Regions from separate parts of the Homo sapiens genome. Here regions 1, 2, 4 and 5 are each linked to region 3. Evidence: fine-mapped expression QTL. A gene starts in region 3. Each other region holds a variant in brackets. All regions are shown on one strand. Distances are from middle to middle. Region 1 overlaps LOC124901334 (a long non-coding RNA gene). Region 2 overlaps LRRC1 (leucine rich repeat containing 1). Region 3 holds the start of LRRC1 (leucine rich repeat containing 1). Region 4 overlaps LRRC1 (leucine rich repeat containing 1). Region 5 holds the start of LOC101927189 (a long non-coding RNA gene).

What was found. PIP is the estimated chance that this variant, and not a neighbour inherited with it, causes the effect. A credible set is the group of variants that fine-mapping cannot tell apart.
Region 1: its variant is the best candidate, but not a certain one, in a credible set for the expression of LRRC1 in whole blood (INTERVAL, PIP 0.83).
Region 2: its variant is the best candidate, but not a certain one, in a credible set for the expression of LRRC1 in subcutaneous fat (GTEx, PIP 0.57).
Region 4: its variant is the best candidate, but not a certain one, in a credible set for the expression of LRRC1 in T cells (TOPMed, PIP 0.70).
Region 5: its variant is the best candidate, but not a certain one, in a credible set for the expression of LRRC1 in fibroblasts (GTEx, PIP 0.82).

The regions. Positions count from the first base shown.
Region 1 is chr6:53,770,259-53,775,436 of GRCh38, reverse strand. LOC124901334 (a long non-coding RNA gene) reads right to left here. Exons shown (of 3, transcript XR_007059620.1): 3 at 1,338-1,424. All of the region lies in intron 2 of LOC124901333 (a long non-coding RNA gene), which reads left to right. Among named protein-coding and RNA genes, the nearest start is that of LRRC1, 22 kb to the left of the region's middle. The variant C/AC (reference allele first, on the strand shown) is at 2,473.
Region 2 is chr6:53,908,083-53,913,082 of GRCh38, reverse strand. All of the region lies in intron 10 of LRRC1 (leucine rich repeat containing 1), which reads right to left. Among named protein-coding and RNA genes, the nearest start is that of MLIP-IT1, 88 kb to the left of the region's middle. The variant G/A (reference allele first, on the strand shown) is at 1,933.
Region 3 is chr6:53,792,917-53,798,092 of GRCh38, reverse strand. LRRC1 (leucine rich repeat containing 1) reads right to left here and starts at 3,088. Exons shown (of 14, transcript NM_018214.5): 1 at 2,678-3,088. The coding sequence starts at 2,836. It overlaps LOC124901333 (a long non-coding RNA gene), which reads left to right and starts at 4,418. Exons shown (of 5, transcript XR_007059619.1): 1 at 4,418-4,552; 2 at 4,744-4,810. RefSeq lists an enhancer at 2,304-3,016 and silencers at 2,983-3,222, 4,268-4,397.
Region 4 is chr6:53,874,325-53,879,324 of GRCh38, reverse strand. LRRC1 (leucine rich repeat containing 1) reads right to left here. Exons shown (of 14, transcript NM_018214.5): 3 at 254-332. Among named protein-coding and RNA genes, the nearest start is that of LRRC1, 82 kb to the right of the region's middle. The variant C/T (reference allele first, on the strand shown) is at 2,238.
Region 5 is chr6:53,928,660-53,933,837 of GRCh38, reverse strand. It overlaps LOC101927189 (a long non-coding RNA gene), which reads right to left and starts at 3,856. Exons shown (of 4, transcript NR_125842.1): 1 at 3,561-3,856. RefSeq lists a silencer at 4,453-4,747. The variant G/TGG (reference allele first, on the strand shown) is at 2,918.

The DNA of each region.
Region 1 (5,178 bases), 23 kb after region 3:
TCATTCATTTCATCTTCCATCACTGATACCCTTTCTTCCAGTTGATCGAATCAGCTACTGAGCCTTGTGCACTTGTCACGTAGTTCTCGTGCCTTGGTTTTCAGCTCCATCAGGTCCTTTAAGGACTTCTCTGCATTGGTTATTCTCATTAGCCATTTGTCTAATTTTTTTTCAAGGTTTTTAACTTCTTTGCCATGGGTTTGAACTTCCTCCTTTAGCTTGGAGTAGTTTGATCATCTGAAGCCTTCTTCTCTCAACTAGTCAAAGTCATTCTCCGTCCAGTTTTGTTCCATTGCTGGTGAGGAGCTGCATTCCTTTGGAGGAGGAGAGGCACTCTGATTTTTAGAGTTTCCAGTTTTTCTGCTCTGTTTTTTCCCCATCTTTGTGGTTTTATCTACCTTTGGTCTTTGATGATGGTGACGTGCAGATGAGGTTTTGGTGTGGATGTCCTTTCTGTTTGTGAGTTTTCCTTCTAACAGTCAGGACCCTCAGCTGCAGGTCTGTTGGAGTTTGCTGGAAGTCTACTCCAGACCCTGTTTGCCTGGGTATCAGCAGTGGAGGCTGCAGAACAGCAGATATTGGTGAACAGCAAATGTTGCTGCCTGATCGTTCCTGTGGAAGTTTTGTCTCAGAGGAGTACCTGGCCATGTGAGGTGTCAGTCTGCCCCCACTGGGGAGTGCCTCCCAGTTAGGCTACTCGGGGGTCAGGTACCCACTTGAGGAGGCAGTCTGTCCGTTCTCAGATCTCCAGCTGCGTGCTGGGAGAACCACTACTCTCTTCAAAGCTGTCAGACAGGGACATTTAAGTCTGCAGAGGATTCTGCTGCCTTTTGTTTGGCTATGCCCTGCCCCCAGAGGTGGAGTCTGCAGAGGCAGGCAGGCCTCCTTGAGCTGTGGTGGGCTCCACCCAGTTCGAGCTTCCCGGCTGCTTCGTTTACCTACTCAAGCCTTGGCAATGGCAGGCGCCCCTCCCCAAGCTGTGCTGCCGCCTTGCAGTTTGATCTCAGACTGCTGTGCTAGCAATGAGCGAGGCTCCTTGGGTGTAGGACCCTCCGAGCCATGTGCGGGATATAATCTCCTGGTGTGCAGTTTGCTAAGACTGTTGGAAAAGTGCAGTATTAAGGTGGGAGTGACCCAATTTACCAGGTGCCATCAGTCACCACTTTCTTTGACTAGGAAAGGGAATTCCCTGACCCCTTGCGCTACCCGGGTGAGGCAATGCCTCGCCCTGCTTCGGCTCACGTTTGGTGCACTGCACCCACTGTCCTGCACCCACTTTCCAACACTCCCCATTGAGATGAACCTGGTACCTCAGTTGGAAATGCAGAAATCACCCGTCTTCTGCGTCGCTCACGCTGGGAGCTGTAGACTGGAGCTGTTCCTATTCGGCCATCTGATACCAGTTTTAATCTTTCTGAGACATGCTGTATCACAAGAATTGGGGGAAAATTACATTAAAAGTACAAAGTCAAATTCATTTACCTCAGAATATATATTCATCTGTCCATAGTCCCTTATCTTCCTTTTTATGTATATTCATCTGGCTCCTTATTTCTTTCTACTGAGAAAGAATGATGCAAAAGCAGAATTTGTTGAGGATGGAAAGTTATAGATACTCTATTTCTCTAATAAAATGGATTCTCAGTAATTCATAGAAATAGAAGAACATGAACTATCATACCTCTATTGTTGGATCTAATATATATATATATATATGTATATAACCTGCTTGGAGATATATATATATACACAGTATATTTAATAATTGTAAAATATTAAATTATTTTTACAATTTAATTTAATTTAAAAAACTAAAAAATAATTGTAAAATAAAAATTTAATTTAATTTAAAAAATTAAAAAATAATTGTAAAATAAAAATTTAATGTATATTTAAATATGTTTTGCTACTTATATCTTACATACTTTAGTAGTTATATAATCTTTATTATCAACCTGAATGGATATAAATATCAAACTTGATCAATTTCATCCCCTTTAGGGGATGCAGCTAGGCATCTAGTTGCAACTAGAAGCTAATGCAACCAGGCAGTGCCATAACTAAAGGCAGCCAGCAAGAGAAAGGGGAAAAAAGAGAGAAGATAAGTCATAGGCAGGACATTTTGCTCTGGGGAGATAATTGGAGCACACTGTGGCTTAGTTGGGAATAACAAACAAGTTGCCCTTTCAGTAAGGGCTGAAAGTGGTATTTTTATTTCTCCATGACTTTCTACCTGACCTTTGGTGCTCCCTGAGGAAGGAAGCTGGGTGTGTGTGTGTCTACAGACCAAAGAAAAGAAAGTGTAAAATGTACCAAGGGGACAGCCTTAGAAGAAATAGTTTTTAAAAAAATGAATCAAAGAAAAAATGTAGTTTTACATAGAATAGGAATGGAAAGATAGTATGATAACTTCTAAGTCTATGCAAAAGAAATCATTATCACCATTATCATTATTTTTTAGATTGTGTTGAA[C/AC]TCTATTACTGGTATAGCATGTTACCCAGTTTAGTAATATTTATGGTCTCAAGGTGAGTAAGTCAGTCCCTTTTATAAAGGCAAGACTAAGTTTTCTATAAAAGGTAATGAGATGATGGCCAGGCATGGTGGCTCACGCCTGTAACCCCGGCTCTTTGGAAGGCCGGGGTGGATCACCTGAGGTCAGGAGTTCAAGAGCAGCCTGGCCAACATGGTGAAAACCCGTCTCTACTAAAAGTACAAAAATTAGCTGGATATGGTGGCATGTGCCTGTAATCCTAACTACTGGGGAGGCTCAGGCACAAGAATCGCTTAAACCCAGGAGGCGGAGGCTGCAGTGAGCCGAGATCATGCCACTGCACTCCAGGCTGGGCAACAGAGTGAGACTCTGTCTCAAAAAAAAAAGAGGTTATAAAATGAGGTTGGCTGGCTCATAATCCTCAGGTTAGCTCTGTAAGACTATTTAAACCATGTGGTATAGGCAGACTCTAAAATGGTCCCAGTGATCTCCACCTCTTGGTATTTGTGCTCTTGTAGTATTCCCTCCCCTTGAGTGTTGGCCAGACTTATTGACTCACTTCTAATGAATAAAATACAGTAAGAGTCATGGGCTGTCACTCTCAAGATCAAATTATAAAAAGGCTATGGTTTCCATCTTGGGTGCTGTCTCTCACTCTCTCTTGGGTTGCTTGCTCTGGGGAAAGCCAGCTGCCATGTCCTGAGATAGCCCTATAGAGAAGCCCACAGGAGTAAGCTTAGAGCAGATTGTTATAATCTGGGTATGGTTTGCTTGTCCCCACCAAGTCTCATGTTGAAATTTGATCCCCAGTGTTGGAGATGGGGCTTGGCAGAAGGTGTTTGGATTGTAGGAGCAAATCCCTTAGGAGATGGGGCTTGGCAGAAGGTGTTTGGATTGTAGGAGCAAATCCCTTATGAATGGCTTTGTGCCATTCTCACAGGAGTGAGAGAATTCTCACTGTTAGTTCCCACAGAACTGATTGTTGAAAAGAGCCTGGCACCTCCTCTGTCTCACTTTCTGTCTCCCCGTGTGATTTGCACACATTGGCTCCTCTTCCCCTTCCTCCATGAGTGAAAGCAGCTTGAGGCCCTCAACAGATGCAGAGCCATGAGCCAAAAACAAACAAACAAACAAAAAACTTTTATTTATAAATTACCCAGCTTCAGTTATTCCTTTATAGCAAAAATGGACTAAGACACAGATCTCCTAAAGCATCTCAGCAGCAATGTCAGTGAACTTGGAAGCAAATTTTCCCCCCAGTTGAGCCTTGAGATGACTGTAGCTCCGGCTGACATTTTGACTGTAACCTCATAAGAGATCAACCTAAAACTACCCAGCTAAGATGGTCCCAGATCTCTGGCCCAGAGAAAATTTGAGATAATAAGTGTTTGTGTTTTAAGCTGCTAAGTTTGGGTAATTTGTTGAGCAGTAATAGAAAACTAATGCAAACCATAGTAGGTAACATGTAATATAGCTGAAATGCTGTGTAAGATGTAGTGGGAGAATCAGAGTCAAGGTGGGCAGGAGAGAGATGAAAAGTACTCACTGAGCACCTATGTTGTCTGAGACACTATGCCAGGCCCTTTACAGACATATCTTAGCTTATTCCTATTACACCACTACACGAGTATCATTATCTTCATGCTACACATGAGTATGCTAAGATTCAGAAGGGTTAAATAATTTCCCCATCATGACACAGCTAGTAAGTAGCAGATGCCAGCTTTTGAACTCTGGTCTGTCTAAACCTGAAGCTCCTACTTCTATTACAACCCTGATTGCAATGAAAAGGGAATCAAATAGTTTATAACACTGGTAATGAGTGAAAATGTACCCAGCTGAACTTTTCAGATGCATACCAAACATTTTATGTGATAAGAGCTGAAGTAGTGTATGAGCAGAGTGCTATAGGAGTGTGAAGAAAGCAACATCTCATTCTGCTCGTAATGTGTGAGGGGATGGAGGAGAAACCCCACAGAGAGAATTATACTGGAAATTAGCAATTCAGCTTCCCTGTTACCCCTGGGAGAAGTCAAGATCTGGAATCAGATTGACATGAGTTCAGACCAGTTACCAGCTCTGTGGCCTGGGCAAGTTACTTCTTGCACCATCCTTTTCTTATCTGTACTGATTATGTTAGGCAATGCACATAATTGCTTGGCGGAGTCAGGTATATAGCGAGCACTTAATAGACATTCACAGTCAATAATACTATTGTTACTGTTTTCTCTCCAAAATTGATTCTCTTGATAAATGTGTAATTACTAACACTATTTTTTAATGTTCATCACTCAGTGATATTTTTTAGGGGAGGAACAAATATTCCCCTATTATAATTAGGCAAAAGTTGAGGGAAAAAAAAAGGAGACAGAGAATATAAGAAAAGGAAAAAGGGGTAAAAACAAAAGTTCAGTGTTTGTTAGATAAGATTGTCTGAGGCAAATGAACAGGCCTGGGAGCGGAGGCAGGGAAAGAGTCTAGCATGTGGACTTTCTGTAGAGAGCAAAGACTGTATATTTTATTCATATTCAGGTTGCCAAGAACAGTATCAGATTCACAATCATTCATTGAAAATCCAATGAACTCATTCATTCTTCCATTCAGCAAATATTAACTAAAATCCACTATGTGCTATCATGCTTCCATGAGGGTAGCATTGCAGAGCTTATGTTCTAACAAGGCAAGAC
Region 2 (5,000 bases), 120 kb before region 3:
TGTATGAGTCTGGTCTTCAAAAAGGAACATAAACACACAAAAAAATCCAATGATTCTCTTGAACAAATTGGCGGTGGTTTTTACAGTCAGGAAAACTGAATCAAGAGGGCAGAAAAATAGCTTGATCCCAGACACAACATTCTGCAGGACTCCATAAAGTACTACATTCTTCTTGTACTCACTCTCCTGACTAAGGGCAATTGCTAGAAAAGGCTCATGAAGGAACCTATTGATGTCTCTCCAACACATGGAAAAATACTACTCCAGAGCCTCCCACTTGTGAAAGAGCACAAGACTTGAATGGTCAATGATATCTGAATATATCTTCTGCCCTTTTCTATTTATACATGTGTTTAATATATGTATAAAATATCTTCAAAAGCAGAATGCATATTTTTGTGAATGGCTACATAATTACTTTCATACATAATCTTTTTATTTCCTCCCTTAAAAATATAAAGATTTCAAAATAATGTATTGAACCACAATATTTAACCATAATGTATATAAAAGAAAAATAAATATATAAGTAAATGTAGACTAACATTTGTCTCTGGTCATGTGGAAAGCACCCAGATATGTAGAAAGGCTTTTAGATTACTCCCTTTAGTCTCCGCATTCACATATTTCTCATCCCAGCAAAAATGGTCTAGTCATTATACCCTAAATACATTTTTATATTTTTGATCCCATTGTTTTTTATAGAAATGCCTTTTTAAATCTTACCAATGATCCAAAATTAGCTAAACATCGTCTATTCCTCCATTGAGTCTTCACAGAACGCTTTGGTCCATATAATAACACGCATTTCATAATTACGGTCTAACCCTCTGACAGCACAAAATACCACATGAAGAACCCTAAGATCATTTACCTGAGTTACAGCTTATTTGCACATGTTTATGTACACTCAAGGTACTTGGCAAGTATAGTATTCACGCTATCTACCCACCATGCATAGCCTCTCTGCCCACTAAATTTCTCATTTACATATGTTTATACACTTTATTTACTTACTTGTGAAAGACCTCTACTTAAAAGTTATCTGCCTCTATGTGTAGCAGTGGAGACAACAAAACTCTTTTTTGTTCCAGTAAGAATCACCAGAGTAGCCTTTCTTAGGTTTTAGAAACATCAAGCCCCAATATAGTGTGGATTTCCCATATGGCTGAGCATATTCTCCCTCCCTTGAGGAAGGGAATCAACAATTCTACCTAGGTGCCCAGAAATATCATGGAAGGAAAGCAATCAAAACCCTGATCCTTTTGATGATCAATATTATTAGAGTCTCTGATAAATTTAGACAATCCTGACAAAGATCTACTCATGAGAAAGAATGACTAGGTTCCCATGGGGCACCCTTGCCGCATCCCTGCTCCAGGTGGAGGAGCTTCGGTGTCAGGCTGGGGTTCAGAGGTACGGCTGCATGCCCTGAAGGAGAGCTTCCAAGTCAGCAGTTGGCTGAGGCTGAAGACCCCCGCTAGCGTCCTGATCTAGCTTTGAAGAGACAGGATTTATGTGTGACCCAAGGGGGGCAAAGCAGATATTATCATTCATATGATCGTCCGGATGGGATAATCAGCTCCTGGAAGACATACAGAGCTGGGACTGCATTTTAATTCTGGGCATCTTGTCTTGAAGCTGTCCACTGCCCTCCCACCACACCAACCTGTAAGATATCTGTTTTGGGGCCCTACTGCTATACCATGTGAACATTTTCAATTTGTATCATATGCATATATTATGTAGTCAAAAAAATTAATTAATTAAAGTGGGTCAGAGAAGGCTCTAAATAAATGTTCTGGACAAGATCCATTAATCATTTGGGAACATATTGTGTAAACTTCAATGAAGTGTGTGAGCTGTCTACTGTGTGTTATTGTTTCATTTTTCTTTTTCCTTTCCCACTCTAATCTCACACCCATTTGAGAC[G/A]TCAAGGGGTGGAAAGCAATTGCGTACAAGAGCCTCTTAGGCCCTCTGGGTTGTCAAAGCAGGCAGTGTGACCTCCTGATCTCTATTGTCTATGGTTTATGAAAAACAATGCCAACAAAGAGCACATGTTGTTGCAGAGTGTGCTAGGGATGCCTTAATCACCCCACAAAGGCACATGCTGTCCCAGCGAACATTCACATAAACACAGCCCTCTTTCCAAATCAGCCAGGAAGGGATGGCACAACCTTTGGTTTTTAGAAAAGATTATTAAGCATTCAAACCCATAACTGAAAAGATATAGTTCATTATAGACGTCAGAGGGAGATGCGGTATGATGGAGGGAGCGGATGCTTTGAGACCATACAGACCTGGGCTAGAATTTAGGCTCAGTCATATGTTTTGTGGTTTTGGATATGTTACTTTAACCAAAAGTAACAATAATGATTAACTTAAATGAAACCACATATATAATTTGGCGCCTATCATAGAAACTGGCCTTTTGCTGTTGCCAAATAAATGTGGTAGCTATTTTTTTTTCCAGGAAATAAAAACCTCAGATCCAAATGATGAGTACAATCAACACCTGAATACCTACTATGTTCTTAGAACTGTACTGATGCTGGCAGTCTCTTTCCTGAACTTACCCGAATGTCTTAAAAAACCCATCTCCCTAACGATGTATCGCAGTGACATTTTGTATTAATAATAATGAAGACTGACATTATACACATCATTCATATATATTTTGGCTTTCTCTTTTGGGTTCAGGAGGCAGAGTTTACAGGTTTCTCAGTGGTAATCAGGATAAAATGTATCACTTAGAAGTTCTGGGAAGCAGAGTCACTGTTTAAATAACTTATTACCAGTTATGTAGGAAGCTGATATTTTTAAGCTTCCCTTAAACCACATAATAGCACCTTCCCAGAATACAAGGGGTTGGACTTGGATTCTCTGAGAATTATGGAATATAGCTGAGAATCTTTGTCCAGCCATTTTGTGTCTCTCTTAATTCAAAATGATACTCTCCTTAGCTGTTATGCACTGATTTAACCCATCTCAAGAAAATAGGTTCTGCAGATTATTGAGCAAACCTCTGCTCAGGTCAACTTTCACTAGGTATTAATTGCCTGCAGGTTAGCTCACCCAAGGAGGAGATCATGAGACAGATTCAGTGATTCAAAAAGGGAGCCTATGTTAGTCACGTCTGTTTATCTTCCATTTTTTAAATGCTTGCCTTAAGTATAAGGGAACTTTCACTTTCCTTCAGTATATTCCTTTTAATATTATTTGTAACATAATTGAACACACACCCCATTGGCAAAAAAAGAAAAGTGTACAATAAGTAAAATCTGGCCAAAACGCAATTTGAACAAAAATAATATGAAGCATAATTTTAGAATCCCATCATCTATGGCATATTATTCAAATGTTCCCTACTTCATAAATATTTTTGGCAATTGTGTGGCTTTGGGATTCCCTGAATTCTGAGGCCACTGACATCAAAATATCCACTAATAGCTACGGAATTCTTTTTTTTTTTTCTGATTATAAAAAAGTACCTTACATTGATTAGAAAAATAAAAACTAAACATACATGCACAGGAAAGCACAATGAAAAAAAATCAAATCTTACCACAAAGGGATAATCAGTATTAACATTATGAGGTACAATCTTCCAGTACCACTGCCTTGCATTTGTGATTATACATACACACTTTAACAATGCTTCTAAGAGGACTTTTATGGACCACATAGTTATTTCCTTCTATGGATGTATCACAGATTATTTAAGAAACTGCCCAGGTTAGACAATGCTAGTTAGGTCTGCCACTTCTTTGCTGTGTGACTCTGGACAAGTGACTTAACCTCTCTCAGTCTTAGTTTCACAATCTGTTGGACATTGAAAATGGTTTACCTATACCTCATAGAACTGTTGTGATAATTAGATAAGAATAAGTGCAAAAGCCCTTGGCACCATGCCTGGCACATGTTAGCTGCCTCTGTGGACACTTGGTATGGTGCCTGCTCCCATGTATAATGTGAGAAATGTTCTTGTACATCATTCTTAGTGTATATCCATAAATGTTTTCCTAGACGTGGAATTGCAGAATCAAAGGGTACGCACATTTCTAAAGTTTTTACTATTATCATATTCCCTTCCAGAAAGTCATAATAATTTATATTTACATGATAATATATATTTCCCTCCACCCTTGCCAAAATTTGGCATTATTAAATTTTTTTGTGAATACTGATGAGGCTGAAATTGTTTCACATTAGTTGCCATTTCTATTTGTTCTTGTGTGAATCACTTGCTGGTTTTTGTGGAAGTTTCTTTTTGTCTACTTCTCTATAGTAAATACATCTTTTCCTTATTGGTGTAGAAGAACTTCTAATAGAGTAAAGACAGATCTCTCATTTAAGATGCCTTAAATGTCTCCCTGCCCCCTTTCAAGAAAGTAAAGGCTGCTTTTACCTTCTTGAAGATCAGAAATCGAATTTTCCTGTAGACAATCCATCAACTATTTTTTATGACTTATTTCAAGTTTAGGAATTACTTCTCCATCTTGAAATTTGATGGTCAACTATATTTTATCTAATATTTTTATATTCTATATCATGTCTTTAATCAATAATTCATTTTAGAATACAACGGAAACTTATACTGAAAGAATTTTGAATTGCAATAATAAGAAGGCAGAAAAACTATCCACAAAATGAATATTCTATCACCACAGGCATTTCTGAGTATCATAGTAATATTTATGGGTAATTAATATTTACAGGTTGCCTGACTGAAAAAAGCTTTGATGAATGATCTGCAAATGCTATGTTGCCTCATCTGACTGGGTAAGTGTGGCTTAGTTGGCGTCTCTTTCATTTGGACTTAATGGAGACAAAAAGAAAACAGGACCCTAAACTTGGATATAAGCTCAATTTCTTCTAGCCAAAAACTCTTTATGGTCTGGCTCTCATTCATCATACTCATGCTCACACATATACCACCAACTCCATCTATCCATGAATCAATCATACTACTGCACAATATGTTCCTTAACTCTCCTCTC
Region 3 (5,176 bases):
ATCTGCTTCCTCCCAAAGATGTGAATCATGCCTCCTTTAATCTCTATATTCCCAATAACTTGTAAATAATGGAGTCTCAATAAATGCTTGGCTAAGGCTAAGTTATAATGACATGAGTAAAACAGGAGAGACTAAATAAAGATTTGATGGGTGTGAGAAGCAGGATAGAAGATTCCTGCTAGGTGTCCAAAGCAATTGTATTTGGCTGACATCTGAATGAACAAGACCCACCAGCAACTGCATCTAACTCACTGGACAGCCCTGAGAAAGTCACCTCAATTCTGAATCTGAATTTGTAAAAGGAAGATATTGGCGCAAACCAGAAGTTGCAGGCCTTTCAGTGGAAAGAAGGTGGCTGTTATTACACTGAAACCTGGAGAGTGCATCTTTGCTGCCCTGGTAAGGGGTACCGGCTTCCCCTTAAGCTGTGCTTCCAAACAAATTATAGAGAGGAGAACATACAGCTGGTATGGCCACCAAAATAAGGACCTTTGAGGCTTGTGAACAAAACAGATGCGCTTGTGTGTGGCAGGTAAGGAGACAGGGGTTTGGAGCAGGAGCAGCAGAGACCAGTGGTAATAAGTTATACAGATCTCAGAGGTGAGACAACAGATAGCCCAAGGAAAGAATGGAAGGGATGGAACAGATATCTATGTTTGCAAGGTGGTTCTCATGTCTGGCATGTACACACCCAGGCACCAAGACACACAATAAGTCAGGGAGAAGTAGATTTTACACAACCTAAAAACTTTAATACTAATTTAACAGCTGTTAGAGCAATAATAATCCATTAGCAAGATCACCTGTAACCTTTGAAAAGCTTGTTTATTTACCATATTTACAGAGTGCCATCAGACTATATTTTGAGATTCTGACAAGTTTCCATTTAGGATCACAGAAAGACCTGACATTTCGGCTTGGCATGGGAAATTATGTAATTTCCCATGCCAAGCTGAATTCCCCAACATTACAGGAAAACCCACAAACCCTGCAGAAGGGAGTGAAAAGCCAATCCAGTCAAAGGAAATCTTCCAGTTCTACAAAAGAAAACAAAAAAACAAATACCACAAAGAGCAATGAATCATTTCTAGTGAATAACTTTTCACTCCATCTTCAATAATGTCATCCTGAAGCCCCTGAAAACTATTAAATTACATATTCTATATTCCTGGTGATATCACTGCCTAAAATTACACAACTTAAAGCAGTGAGGGAGCTGACGACTGGTAAGAAATCTTCAAGGACGTAAAAGGCCAGAAAAAAATCATGTGTTTGAAAATGCCTGCGAAATAATAAACGCCTGAGGGAACTTGATGGCTTTGCTGCTTCTAAGCTAAATAAAGCCTGGGGGGCTTTGCAAAGGTCCTAGTGAGGATAATCTCCATGATTACACAGAGCAAACATCCAATCAATTCCACATGAACCCAGGAAAGTTAATCCAAGAAGAACACCACCACTTAAAATATTGAGAAAAACACACAGTTCTTATTGTTTAAATGCTCCATCAGCGCTGGAGAACGTATCAGGTCATTCTAACAAGTCAGAACACTTGACTAGTGTTTCTGTGACAATGATTTGGCTTGTGTTAACTAAAGGGCAACAAGAAGTTTGCGTTCCAAAGCTCAGGCCTAAAACAGGTCCAATCCCCGACTGCCAGCAGTCTCCCTACTTCCTGCACACCTTTGGATTATTGCACACCGACTTCCTGCACACACCTGGGTTTGAGACACCTTCCCCGAGGGGTTACTCTAGCTAAGTTCCCGAGGCAAGCTTGAAAGAAGTTCGCTGTACCCCTACTCTCGGTCAAAGCACCATCAGCACATGTCGCTTGACAAGTTCGGCGGCAATGGAGTGATCAATTTACATAAACAACTCTGAAGAGATAACGCATCACTGCAAGGAGAGAAAGTCAGCAGGACGACTGTGCCCGCTCCGGGAAAGGCGGCTGCAAGGCTGGCCCGCGGGCAGAGCCTCCGCTGACGTTCACCGCAGCTCCCACCACGCAACAGGTCCACGTAGGCAAGGCCCGGGCGGCCGGCATCTGGGCACCTGCCCCTAGCGCTCCAGGCCCAGCTCTCCCCTGCGCCCATCTCGCGTCCACCCCCGCAGCCACCGCAGGCCAGCCGGCCAAGCCCACCCGCGATAAAGCACGGAGCACATTCCTCATTCCTCCCAAGATGCCGAGATAGTGCGGCCCGCTTGAGCGCTGCCCAGGTCACAAGGTCCTCCGGGACATGCCTTGACTAAAGGAGAGGCGCGCCCGGCCCTTGGTGGGGGAACGACCCCGGGGAGTGGAGGGGGGGAGGATGCAGTGCTCTGTAGCTTCCAGATGGAAACAGCCCGAATCACCCGGCTTCTCACCTGACCGGGCACAAGTGCCAGGTGTCAGTACCTAGCATGGATCTAAGTTACTTAACAGTCCAGAACGCTTCTCCAATAGCACGAGCCCCAGTGACTACGCGCAAAATATCCGGTCACTTTGAATAAAATGAAAAGGAACTTTTACTGGGAAAGGATGGAAGTAAAGAGACAGGGGGAGAAAGAAGCAGGTGAATGCATAAAAGAGGGAAGGTTCCTTCACGCCGGACCCGGAGATGGAAGAGGGGACGAGAGAGGATGGGAGCGGAAGGGACAGCAGACGAGCGGGCAGAGCGCTCAGGTGAGGCCGGACCCTTACCTCGGGCAGCTCGCGGAGCTGGTTGGCGTCCAGCAGCAGCTCCTCCAGGCTCCGGGCATAGCGGTAGATCTCCTCGGGGACGTAGACCAGCGAGCAGTGGCGCTTGTCGATGCTCTCCACATGACGGTTGCACCGCCACAGGGGGATGCAGTGGAACATCGCCGCCCCCGCCGCCGCCTAGCCGGGTCCCGAGCGGCGGAGACCCGGGCTCCGAGCCCGCTCTGGCCGGCGGCTCCGCTCAGTCCGCTGCCCTCTCCGCGCTCGTTGTTGGCTCTTGGGTTAGCTCGCTTCTCGCGCCGGGCTTCGCGGTCGGAAGTGCTTCAAGGAACCTGGAGCGGGAGCCCCTGCCCCGTCCCTGTACCCCCGCCCGCCAGCCGGTGCCTCCACTCCCACCCGCCAGTCGCCGTCGCCGCCCCCGCCGCCGCGCGGAGCTTCCTACTCGCAGCCGCCGCGCGGACTGAGCATGCGCGCCAGTGGGTGCGCGCCGAGGGCGTTTCCCGGCCCGAGGGATGCTCCGCTCCGGGTTTTCCCGGCGACCTGCATCCAGAGAGGGTCGACTGACCTGCGGGCCGGCTGCTGGCGGTCTGCTTACTCCGGCAAAGACGGGGGCGCATCGGGCCGTTTGAGGAAGGCAGACTGTGAAAGGACTTGGGACAAAGATGAGGCGGAGTAGAGGCGGCCTGAGCAGAGCAGAACAACTTTGATATTTAGTTTTATTTAACTCGCACTCCTCTCCTTGCTCCCCTTCCCCAAAACAACTTTCTCTTCCGGGGTCACACAGGACCGCCCCAAAGCGTACCTTGCGCGCCGGGGGCGCCAGGCGCTACTGGATTCGGTGTAGTTTTGAGGTGTTTGCACCACCCTCGCTGCTGCTTTCGTGGCTGCCCGTGTGCCCGCTGCTCACGGCTGCCCCAGAAGTGTGAGCTGGCCGCGCCCGGCCCTCTGGTCCTCGGGCACCGCCTGCAGGCTTTGTAACTTGGGAGCACATCTCTGGTGATCATGGTTTATGCAGTGAGTGATAGTAAATCCTCCTCCCTGTACCAGCAAAGGCATAGGAGTCTGAGAGTCTGCGAGATTCTCATAGATGTGGTTGCACCTGGCAAGGAGCCCAGCTGCAGAAATAAGCAGGCAAACGCGAGTTTCTGAGCCAGTTCCAGCCCGGCCCAGATGTTGGCCCCTGACAACTAGCTGTGGCTGGTGCGGAGGGAGGAGCGAGGGAAGAGGGGCAGATCGAGGCTGCCAGGTGAGCATCCTCCATACAGCTCCTGCTTTTCTGCTACAACCCCAGTCCCGTCCAGCCCGGATGACCGGGGAGGCTCACTATTGGGTTATAACAACCATTCCCTCGCCCCGACTCATTCCTGCGGACCACGGCCGGAATCCTGAACTGCCCCTCTTTGCCTGTAACTGTTTGCAACACAGTCCCCATCTCCGAATAACCAAATTTTCTCCTTTAATGAAGGGTTGCTAAAGTCAAGGTCAATCACAATGATGAATCATTTCCTTGGGGGCTTCTCTGATTCCCCACCCGGCCGCCCCTTCGTTCCACACTTTCCCTTTCAAGCATACTCAAACTCCAGGTTTCCACCTGCGGCCGCTGCCACGCTGGCTCTCCCACACTCACTCCCGCCCTCCAGCTGCTATAGCTAAAATCTGGAGCCACGGAGTTCACTTTTCTATAGAAGACAAAGCTGAGCATGCTCAGTGGCCAAGGCAAAGTTTGGTCGGAAACTAGTTTTTGCATTAGACTCTCCATGGGCTCCATAGACTCTCCTGTACCTTACGACTAGGCACAGGAGCGTTTCCCCGGTGAAATGGAGAAGAGGACACTTGGTCTTTTCAACTTTACTAGGAGGGCTCCTTTCTTCCCAGTCCGTAAGGAGGGGTCTGACTTTCATTTCCACCCCAGCATTATCACCTTAACTCTCATTCCAGTCAATCCCGAAACTCCGTTGCCCTACCCACTTCACCCTTCTTTTGTTTGTCCTGATTTGATTCCTGCGTTCTCACAGAGGGCTACCTGGACTTTGAACCTCCACCCCCCTTTCTACATTCTTGCATTCCAGAAACATATGAAGCTCATTTCTGCCACCCTTCCTAGAAAACTGGTTCCTGACAGAGACATGTGGAAAGGTAAGTAAGTCCCTGTCTTCAAGTTTTCCAACTGCTTTTTAAAAAAAAAATTAAAGAAGGCTAGTTCCCTCCATTTAAAATAATGTGATTTCCAGAGGTTATCACACTAGATTATTTTAACGAACACCAAATGTATTTTAAAGACGTGTCCAGTCTTTTAAAAATTCAGACCTCAATAAGCATTCCTTGTGTGCCTCTCCATGATGCTTCAGCTTCTCTGTGTTATTATTTTTGTATCACCTTAATCCGAAAGAGATTATGACCTCTTAAACAACAGATACTGTCTCACTTGCTTTGTAGATCTGGGAAGCTGCCACAGTGCCATATGCACAGTCAATGATCAACAGTTTTTGTTGATTTAATTCT
Region 4 (5,000 bases), 81 kb before region 3:
ATCCTGTTTTGTACACTTCACTGTGCTGCACCTTATCCCTACAACATACTTTGAGGTTTCTATCAATAGAATAGTACGCCTTTCATTGTACAGGGCTATTTATAAAGAAATATCTGTGAAAGTCAACCATCCTTGATAAAGACAGTGATCCATCTAGGTACCTCCAAGATGGTTAACCTGACTGTGTTCTCCGCTTGGCTCTCAAAAAAGATACTCTTACTAGTATAGACAGAAAAGTAAGCAGAAAGCTTACCTAGTCAGTGGGTTTCCGCTGAAGTCAGCTACCTGCAGTGCTTTACAGAATGAAATGCTTTCTGGAATTTCAGGAATCTCTGCAGGAGTAGAGAAAATGTCTATAATTTGCCACCATTATTAACAGTTTTCATCACTCTCAAGATGGATCACACTCACAAGAGAATATCTGGAAATTCCTACCTCCATTCAAACATGACCTAGACTTATAAAGTATTTTAATATATTTATATTTGCTTTCCTAATATAAGTTATATTCTCAACAGAAGCACATTAAAGAAAAATAATAAAAACATCAAATCTCTGACAAAATTATAGCTATAGGAGTAAGTTCTAGTGTTCTATGGCAGGGGTCCCCAATCCCTGAGCTACAAACCAGTACCTGTGAGGAACCGGGATGCACAGCAGGAGGTGAGCGGCAGGCGGGTGAGCAAAGCTTCATCCATATTTACAGCCACTCCCCATCACTTGCATTACTGCCTGAGCTCCACCTACTGTCAGATCAGCGCCCACATTAGATTCTCATAAGAGCATGAGCCCTATTGTCAACTGCCCATGCGAGGGATCTAGGTTGTGTGCTCCTTATGAGAATCTAATGCCTGATGATCTGTTTCCCATCACCCCCAGATGGGACTGTCCAGTTGCAGGAAAACAAGCTCAGGGCTCCCATTGAATCTACCTTATGGTGAGTTGTATAATTATTTCATTATATATTACAATGTAATAATAATAGAAATAAAGTGCACAGTAAATGTAATGAGCTTCATTTGTCCCAGAACCATTCCCAACACTGGTCTGTGGAAAAACTGCTCATATGATTTGGTTGTGTCCCCACCCAAATCTCATCTTGAATTCCCATGTGTTGTGGGAGGGACCCAGTAGGAGGTAATTGAATCATGGGGGCAGGTCTTTCCTGTGCTGTTCTCATGATAGTAAGTTTCACGAGACCTGATGGTTATTATAAGGGGGAGTTTTCCTGCACAAGCTCTCTTTGCCTGTCGTCATCCACATAAGATGTGACTCCCTCCTCCTTGCCTTCCACCGTGATTGTGAGGCCTCCCTAGCCATGTGGAACTGTAAGTCCATTAAACCTCTTTCTTTTGTATGTCTTTATCAGCAGCATGAAAACAGACTAACAGAGTAAACTGGTACCAGTAGAGTGGGTTGCTGCTGAAAAGATACCCAAAAATGTGGAAGCAACTTTGGAACCGGTTCACAGGCGGAGGCTGGAGCAGTCTGGAGGGCTCAGAAGACAGGAAAACGTGGGAAAGTTTGGAACTTCCTAGAGATTTGTTGAATGGCTTTGACCAAAAGCCTGATAGCAATATGGATAATAAAGTTCAGGCTGAGGTGGGAGATGAGGAACTTGTTGGGAACTGGAGCAAAGGTGACTTGTTATGTTTTAGCAAAGAGACTGGCAGCATTTTGCCCCTACCCTAGAGATTTGTGGAACTTTGAACTTGAGAGAGATGATATAGGTATCTGGTGAAAGAAATTTCTAAGCAGCAAAACATTCAAGAGGTGACTTGGGTGCTGTTAAAGGCATTCAGTTTATAAGGGAAGCAGAGCATAAAATTTGGGAAATTTACAGGCTGACAACATGATAGAAAAAAAAACATTTTCTGAGGAGAAATTCAAGCTGGCTGAAGAAACTTGCATAAGTAACGAGAAGCTGAATGTTAATCCCTGAGACAATGACAAAAATGTCTCCAGGGCATGTTCAAAGGTCTTCATGGCAGCCCCTCCTATCACAGGCCCAGAGGCCTAGGAGAAAATTGTTTCCTGGGCCCGGTCCAGGGTCCCCATGTTGTGTGCAGTCTAGGGACCTGGTGCCCTGCATCCCAGCCACTCCAGCTCTGACTAAAAGGGGCCAAAGTATAGCTTGGGCTGTTGCTTCAGAGGGTGGAAGCCCCAAACCTTGGCAGCTTCCACATAGTGTTGAGCTTGCGGGTACACAGAAATCAAGAATTGAGGTTTGGGAACCT[C/T]TGGCTAGATTTCAGAAGATGTATGGAAATGCCTGGATGCCCAGGCAAAAGTTTGCTTCAGGGGCAAGGCCCTCGTGGGAAACCTCTGCTAGGGCAGTACAGAAAGGAAATGAGGGGTTGGAGCACCCACACAGAATCCCTACTGGGGCAGTGCCTAGTGGAACTGCGAGAAGAGGGCCGTTATTCTCCAGACCCCAGAATGGTAGATCCACCAACAGATAGCACTGTGCACCTGGAAAAGCCACCAGACAGTCAAGGCCAGCCCGTGAAAGCAGCCAGGTAAGGGGTTATACCCTGCAAAGTCACAGGGGCAGAGCTGTCCAAGACCGTGGGAACATACCTCTTACATCAGCATGACCTGGATGTGAGACATGGAGTCAAAGGAGATCATTTTGGAGCTTTAAGATTTGACCGCCCTGCTGGATTTCAGACTTGTATGGGGCCTGCAGCTCCTTTGTTTTGGCCAATGTCTCCCATTTGGAATGGCTGTATTTATTCAATGCCTGCACTGCCATTGTATCTAGGAAGTAACTAACTTGCTTTTGATTTTACAGGCTCATAGATGGAAGGGACTTGCCTTGTCTTGGATAAGATTTGGACTGTGGACTTTTGAGTTAATGCTGAAATGAGTTAAGAGTTTGGGGGATTGTTGGGAAGGCATGATTGGTTTTGAAATGTGAGGACATGAGATTTGGGAGGGGCCAGGGGCAGAATGATATGGTTTGGCTGTGTCCCCATCCAAATCTCATCTTGAATTCCCATGTGTTGTGGGAGGGACCCGGTAGGAGGTAACTGAATCATGGGGGCAGGTCTTTCTGAGCTGTTCTCATGACAGTAAGTAAGTCTCACAAGATCTGATAGTTATTATAAGGGGGAGTTTCCCTGCACAAGCTCTCTTTGCCTGCCACCATCCACATAAGATGTGACTTGCTCCCCCTTGTCTTCCACCATGATTGTGAGGCCTCCCTAGTCAGATGGAACTGTGAGTCAAATTAAACCCCCTTCTGTCTTAAATTGCCCAGTCTCGGATATGTCTTTACCAGCAGTGTGAAAATGGACTAATACAACTGTCTTCCACAAAACCGGTCCGTGGTGCCAAAAAAAGTTGAGAACTGCTGTTGTATAGCACTGTAAGATGACTACAGTTAACAATAATATATAGTTTCAAATGGGTGAAAGGAGGATATAGAAAGTTCCTAACACAAAGAAATGATAAATGCTTTAGATGAGTATGCTAATTACCTTGTAATTACACAGTACATTATATGTATCAAAGCATCACTATGTACCCATACATATGTACAATTATTTAACAAATCATTTAAATAATAAAATAACAAAAACCGCCACTACCACCATCAAGTCCCATCACTCTATCAAAAGCACTGATGGCATTCTGTTGTAATTACCTTTAGACTTTCTTTTCCTTATATTTTCATGTGGTGGTATCAGTACCAGGTATTCCAAAGTAGTGCACTTTTAAATTACGATTTTTTTCCTGATTACAAACATAAATATTTGTAAAATATACAAAGAAGAAAATAAACACCACCAACACTCTCATCACCTAGAGGTAATCTTTTATTGTGATTTTTTTTTTTACTTGTCACACACACACGTGTGCACACACATATACACACAGAATATGTGTATAAATAGATTATATTTCACAATACTAAGTTCATGATAATTTGTTTTTTGCACCTTACATTACTTTACAAGCTTTTTTCTCTTATCATTATTTCTCCAAGTAGTTTGCTGTTCTTAATGGCAGAAAAGCACATTGTATATATTTTCATATTTCATTTAATCAATCCTCCATTGTTGGGCATTTAGGTTGTTTCAAAGTTCCTGATGTTATATGTATGTGCATTCCTGATTATTTCCTTAGGCTATGTTCCCAGAAGTAGAATTACTGTGTCAAAGGCATTAACATCTCTACAGAGCTTGAAAAATATTGTTAAATTGCTTTTGCGAGCAGCAACTTATGCCCACTTATACTTTCATCAGCCTGTACAAGATGCCGTATTCAACATCTCTCCTCCTCTTTTCTTTCTTTTACATTTTAAAAAATGCCAATTGTATTGCTAAAATAGTATGGCAACATTTTATTTTGTATTCTTTTTATGACTATTGCAGCTGAACATTTTCCCCCATATTTACTGGCCTTTAAATACTGTGATTTTTAAAAGACCAAAGTTGCTATTTTAAATTCCTTTCTTGATAGAAAACTTGAGATTATAGCTTTTAGGCCTTTAAAAGGTTAGTCTGCAGCATTTAACTTCAAAAATTCATTTATTTTGGACATATTAACATTGAGAATGGCTAAAATAGAAAGATTTCTCCTGGTTCTTGCTGTTTCTTCCACCAGTCTGACTCATTCAATCTGAGCCAAAACATACTTAATATTTCTAAATTGTGGGTGATAGGGAAAAGGGAGAATTAAAGAAAAAATGGATGTCTTGCTCCAACAACCTCACAATAATCAGATGCTACATGAAAGATTTTAGTTCAAATTTAAAAGTGTAAAACATTTGGATCTATGCTAACATTTTCCTCACACTATTTTCTGCCTTGCATGGTCAAATGAGGTAGTGAAAAACAAACACTATGGTCCTAGTTTATATAAATATAATCGCTTATTTATGAAAGTAATAGCATAAATATAATAGCTTATTTGTGAAAGTAGGACCATAGTGTTTGTTTTTCACTAATATTATATATATATCATATATATATAGCTGTCAAATCTATAGTTGAATC
Region 5 (5,178 bases), 140 kb before region 3:
CCTCTTGTCATTGCCCTTTTTCACCCCATCAACAACCACAAACACCTATTACATCTAATTTTTCTTTACCTTCCTCCCACTCTCATCCAAGCTAATGGGTTTCCTCCAACACAGCTTCTTACAGGTTAAACTATAAATTTGATGCTAATCAACTGGTAAGAAACTTCCTAGAAACTTCCTTACTCATTACAGAGGAAGGTGTGTCAAAAGCATAAGGGTTCAAGCTGCAAGACATGACCTGTTAATGAGTTGTGAAATTAATTTATTTGGTTTTGATTAGCACTAAAAATAATGAAATTGGAAATATCAGAGTTCCTTATATACAGTTAAGGAAAAAGCACTATGTTGGGAAACTTTAGTTTCAGCTATGTACATGTATGTGTTTACTGGGTTACTACGTGACAGGTTCCTTCAAGAAAGTTGAGTTGCAGTCAGAAAAGTTAGAAAAGCACTGAGGTAGAAATTTCTAGAAAGAGGGAGCATTCCACAGAGTCAAATGCAGCAGACAGGTCTAGAAAGGTAAGAGGTGAATCAGTGTCCATCAGATGTGGCCCCACAGAGGTCTGCTGACCTGGCTAGAGCAGTTCCACCATGCTGTGTATGGGAGCCAGACTTCTCACGGTAGTGCATGGAAACTTAGAAGCAGGGAGAACAAGAATAGACCTGTTTTAAGAACCTTGGCAGAGAAGAGTAAGGAAGACTATGATGGAGGGGACTTAAGAGTCTATTTCTCAGGGACTCAAAAGTTAAAAGTAAAGCAAAAAGTAAATTGGTCTTTAGAGTAAGTCTTCACGTAGTAATCAAAAAACAATTTTCCTATTTGCCAATTCAATTTTCTATTCCTAATTCAAAAATTGTAATGAAAACACTTGAGACAATTAAAGTTGAGTAAAAGTAGCCACAAGGATTTAGAAACAATGCCTATCAGGGCTGGGTGCAGTGGCTCTAGGTTTTTGACCTAGGTGATCAAGGTTTTTTGCTCATTTAGAGTGGTATCTAAACATGTTTATAGAAGCTGCTGAGATATGGGATAAAATGGATCATCAATGGAGCAAACTCTAAGAGAAAAAGGATCGGAGAGTGGCTGGAAGAGCTAGCTGTGATGAGGAAGTGAGGTCTGGGAGAGGACAGAGTCCAGCAAAGGCATTCTGTGGGTGAGGGTAGCAGGGAATAAAAACTGGCAATTCGCTCCTGAAAGCCTTTATTTCCTCCATAAAATAAGGCTGACATTCAGTATCTAAATGTGCTGCCTTGGCCATTTTTAAAATATTGCATCTCTTCCTATAGGATGCTGGTTTCAGTCATGGAGTCTACACATCATGCAGTGATGTTGCTTAGCCAGGCATACAGCCCATCCTTCAAGAAAATTGAATAGAAATGTAAGATAACAGTAGGGTCCCCAAACATAATAGCATTGGGACTCAAGAGAGTGTTGAGGGTGTGCTATAGCTCCTGAGCAGCCTGAGAAGGGGGTGACCCCAGGCATTTGTTGCAAAGCATCCCAGAGTTGGCAGAGCAAGTGGCAGGGCAGGTCATGCTGTTGGTAGGGAACAAGGAACAGGCTCTCTGAGTTCTGCCCATTTGGAAAGCCAGGGTGTCCAGACTGGTGTCTGGCTGTGATAACCAGGCGACACATCCAACGCCGTCTGGTGGCAAAAGATAGCAGGTTGCACCTATTGACTAGAGGCAGAAACCCCTGCAAACTGTCTATAAAGGGTCAAATAATCAATATTTTTGGCTTTGAGTGCCATTTGGTCTCTGCACATTTAAAAAGGGACATAGTCATGTTCCAAGAAAACTTTATTTATAAAAACAGGCAATGGGTTATAGTTTAAGAGCCCCTGGACTTGAGTATTTTAATAGGAATGCTATCAAAAAAGTCTGATGTTCCCAAAGCAAATGGTGGCCCAGGGAAGGGCATCATTTAGATAGCAGCCACCTACATTAAATAAGCCCTAAAGATGCAAAAATTTTGCATATATGATATGCATAATTATGCAATATGATAAATGATTAGAACTACTACTCAGATCTCTAGAGAAGTAGTTTTATGATACACATAATATTGCTTTATATGACAAAAAAGGGACAGTTTCTAAAATGTGTGTATTGGTCTACATATTACCATATATTTCCATACCAGTTACCTATTTTCAGGATCATCCTTAGTATGACAACGGGATAATGCATTTGGAGAGAGTCATTAAACCTTGGAACAGTTGAATAAGGCAACTTGTTTCCTAAGGACACTAAAATGATTGTGATGCTACATGAAGAATACAGATGAGGTTGGAGATCCTGAGCTTCGGTGTTTCCCAATCTGAAATACCAAGATTGGAAGATTTCTTCCAAAAGCCCAGGTATAAGGACAGATTGTGGGTTGGAAGATTTGTGACCTGAATGTCAGGCACAGATCTGGTTCCTGCTCACTGAGAGTCCATGGTGTGTGGGCTGATACGCCACCAGGCAAGTCAGGAAGTGTTAATATATTCTAGCCACATCTGGCCATCCACATTTTCAGTCTTCCCCTTAGGCACTCACCCAGAGGCAAACATGCTTTCTACTTCCGTTAGCACTTCCTCTACTCCTATTAGCTTGTATAGATTGGCAAGAAGAGCCTAAAGGTCAACACATGGCTAAGACCAGATGCTCTTATGCCTCCCCATATGGAGCAAATATGATGCGTTTCAGGATAGCAAAAAGAGTGGTAATTGCTGAAAACCTTCTATGTGCTCTGTCATCTAATTCTCTAGAAAGTCTTGAAGTAAGTATTATTCCCATTTTACAGACGAGTTCACTAAGACTTGGGGAAATTAAGAAAAACCTCTCAAGGTCACAACATTAAGTAAGTGCCATAGCTGGATTTAAATCTGCTTAACTCCAAAGCTCCTGCTCCTTCCAGCACACTAGAGCAGTG[G/TGG]TTCTCTAAGTATGTTCCCTGAACCAGTAGCAGCAGCAGCACCTCAGAACATGTTAGAGGTGCAAATTCTTAGGCCCCACCCCAGACCTATGGAATCAGACTCTGAGAGTGGGGTCCAGCAATCTGCTTTAACACTGCCACCAGGGGGTTCTGATGCATGCTCAAGTTTGGAAACTACTGCACAATACAGCCTTCAAGAAAAAGATACTACAGTAGGTTCCAGGTCTACACATCATGCAGTGATGTTGTAGGTTCCAGGTTACATGACAGTGAGCAAGACAGGGTCAGCCACACTGAGCAGCCCTGGACAAACCTAAGGAGCTAAGGATAGAGACAGCTCTTCTCTACCTGTATGCCTGACTGAGCAACATCACTGCATGATGTGGTTTTTCTGCCCCCAACATTGTACCAGTTCTTTAAAGAGCAAGTAGCTATGATACCGGAAAAGAACCATATCAGAGCTTCACATTTGGTTGTCAACATCATTTCTTCTAACAACCTAACTGCTACATGGATTTGCTGTCCTTGAGATGTGGAATGAAAAGGTTAGGTAATTTACCAAGGGTCAAGTGACCACAGGTGACAAACCCTGGGTTTCCCAAGGACTGCTGCTACCCAGGTCCCAGGGGCACACCCCCTTTACCTGCTGGCAGGCATCAAGACGAAGACAGGCAGCCATTGTTGGGGAGGGAGTCGACATCAAGCTGGTATCTCATCTAGCTCGTGACTTTTCTATACTGAGCACCTTCCAGGTGTCCAGGTGAGAACACAACATGGATAAGGCTTACTTTACATCTGTCAGAGCCCTGGCAAATGCCTTCCCGAGTGCCTCTGGCATTCTCTGTGAGAAAGAGAGCCACAGCCTGACAACTCCCATAGCCATCAATGGCAACGCTCCTGACCCTCAAGACATTCCAAAAGGATTAAAACCAAGAGCAACCCCAACCTAACAGACCCAGCCCATAGCGTCTTCTCGAAACTTCCCAAACTCACACCGAAACTTGCCCCACCCATTCCGCCTCTGGGCCAATGGGCAGGACCAAAATTCAGGAAGAACATTCAATGCCCAGACAAGTAACCATGTTGTTTTGTTTTTCCAAGCAGTGCTGAGCGAGGTTTAAACAAACAAGCACTCACACCTGCAGCCAAGGAAGGGCAAGAAGCAGCAGCCAGGTGTGGGAACATGAACGCCAGACACTCGGGATCCAGACAGTCTCCCAGGAGAGCCCATTTCCAGTGAATACTTTCTTCAGGTGCTCAGTGAAGCGCAGTCCCATGGGGAGCCTGGGCAACTGTTGGCAAGCTACTTTTTTAAAGCAGTAAGACTTCATTTATGACTTACCTTGAGAAAGCATCAAAAGAGAGGCATTTGCAGACTCTGCATTTACAGGGCATCAGGTGTGGGGTGTCACTCTATTACACCCTGTTACAAGCCTGGTTTCTTGCTATGGGAAGACTCCATAGGACCTTCTGTTCCTATCACCAGGGTGGTGGAGCCAGTTTCAAATAAAATTAAACATTGCTTAGTCACACAAGTTTTCTATTCTTCCTGTTTTCTGCTTCTTTGATTAAATTAGTCCCTAAAGGAGCAATCATTATTTGTCAAATCTTTCACAACAACACATTATAAAAGGAGGACTTTAAATAATAAATTATGACTCATCTTCCTCATTTCCCCCAAATGGCACAAAGGTCAAGTTGCAGCACCATAGATTTCCCAGTGTTCATTATCTGTCTTTTCTCCAAGGGTAGGCTATTAAAGGTAGTGAGTATTAAAAGTCATTCCTAACTAATTAGCTCACTCTGGAGCTACCTGCCAATTTTCAGAATATGCTGAAGCTTTCTCAGAGAGCCAATTACCAAACTGTCACTCCAGTTAATGTTAAAAACGTTATCAATTTTTTTTTTCCCACTAGCCAAATACTTTATCTCACAAGTTTCTTAGGATTTGCACATAGTTTGAGATGGTAGAACAAAGACCCCATGAACATTTCCACAGCCCTTAGCCCAGGACAACATACAAGAAGTGAGTGAAGGTGGTGGGAGGGTTAGAGCAGCTGTTCCAAATCTTTTTGGCACCAGGGACCAGTTTCATGGAAAATGATTTTTCCATGGACCAGTGAGGGAGGGTGGCTTCAGGATGATTTAAGTGCATTACACTTATCATGCACTTTATTTCTATTGTTATTACATTATAATATGTAATAAAACAATTATACAAGTCATCATAATGTAGAATCAGTGGGAACCCTGAGCTTGTT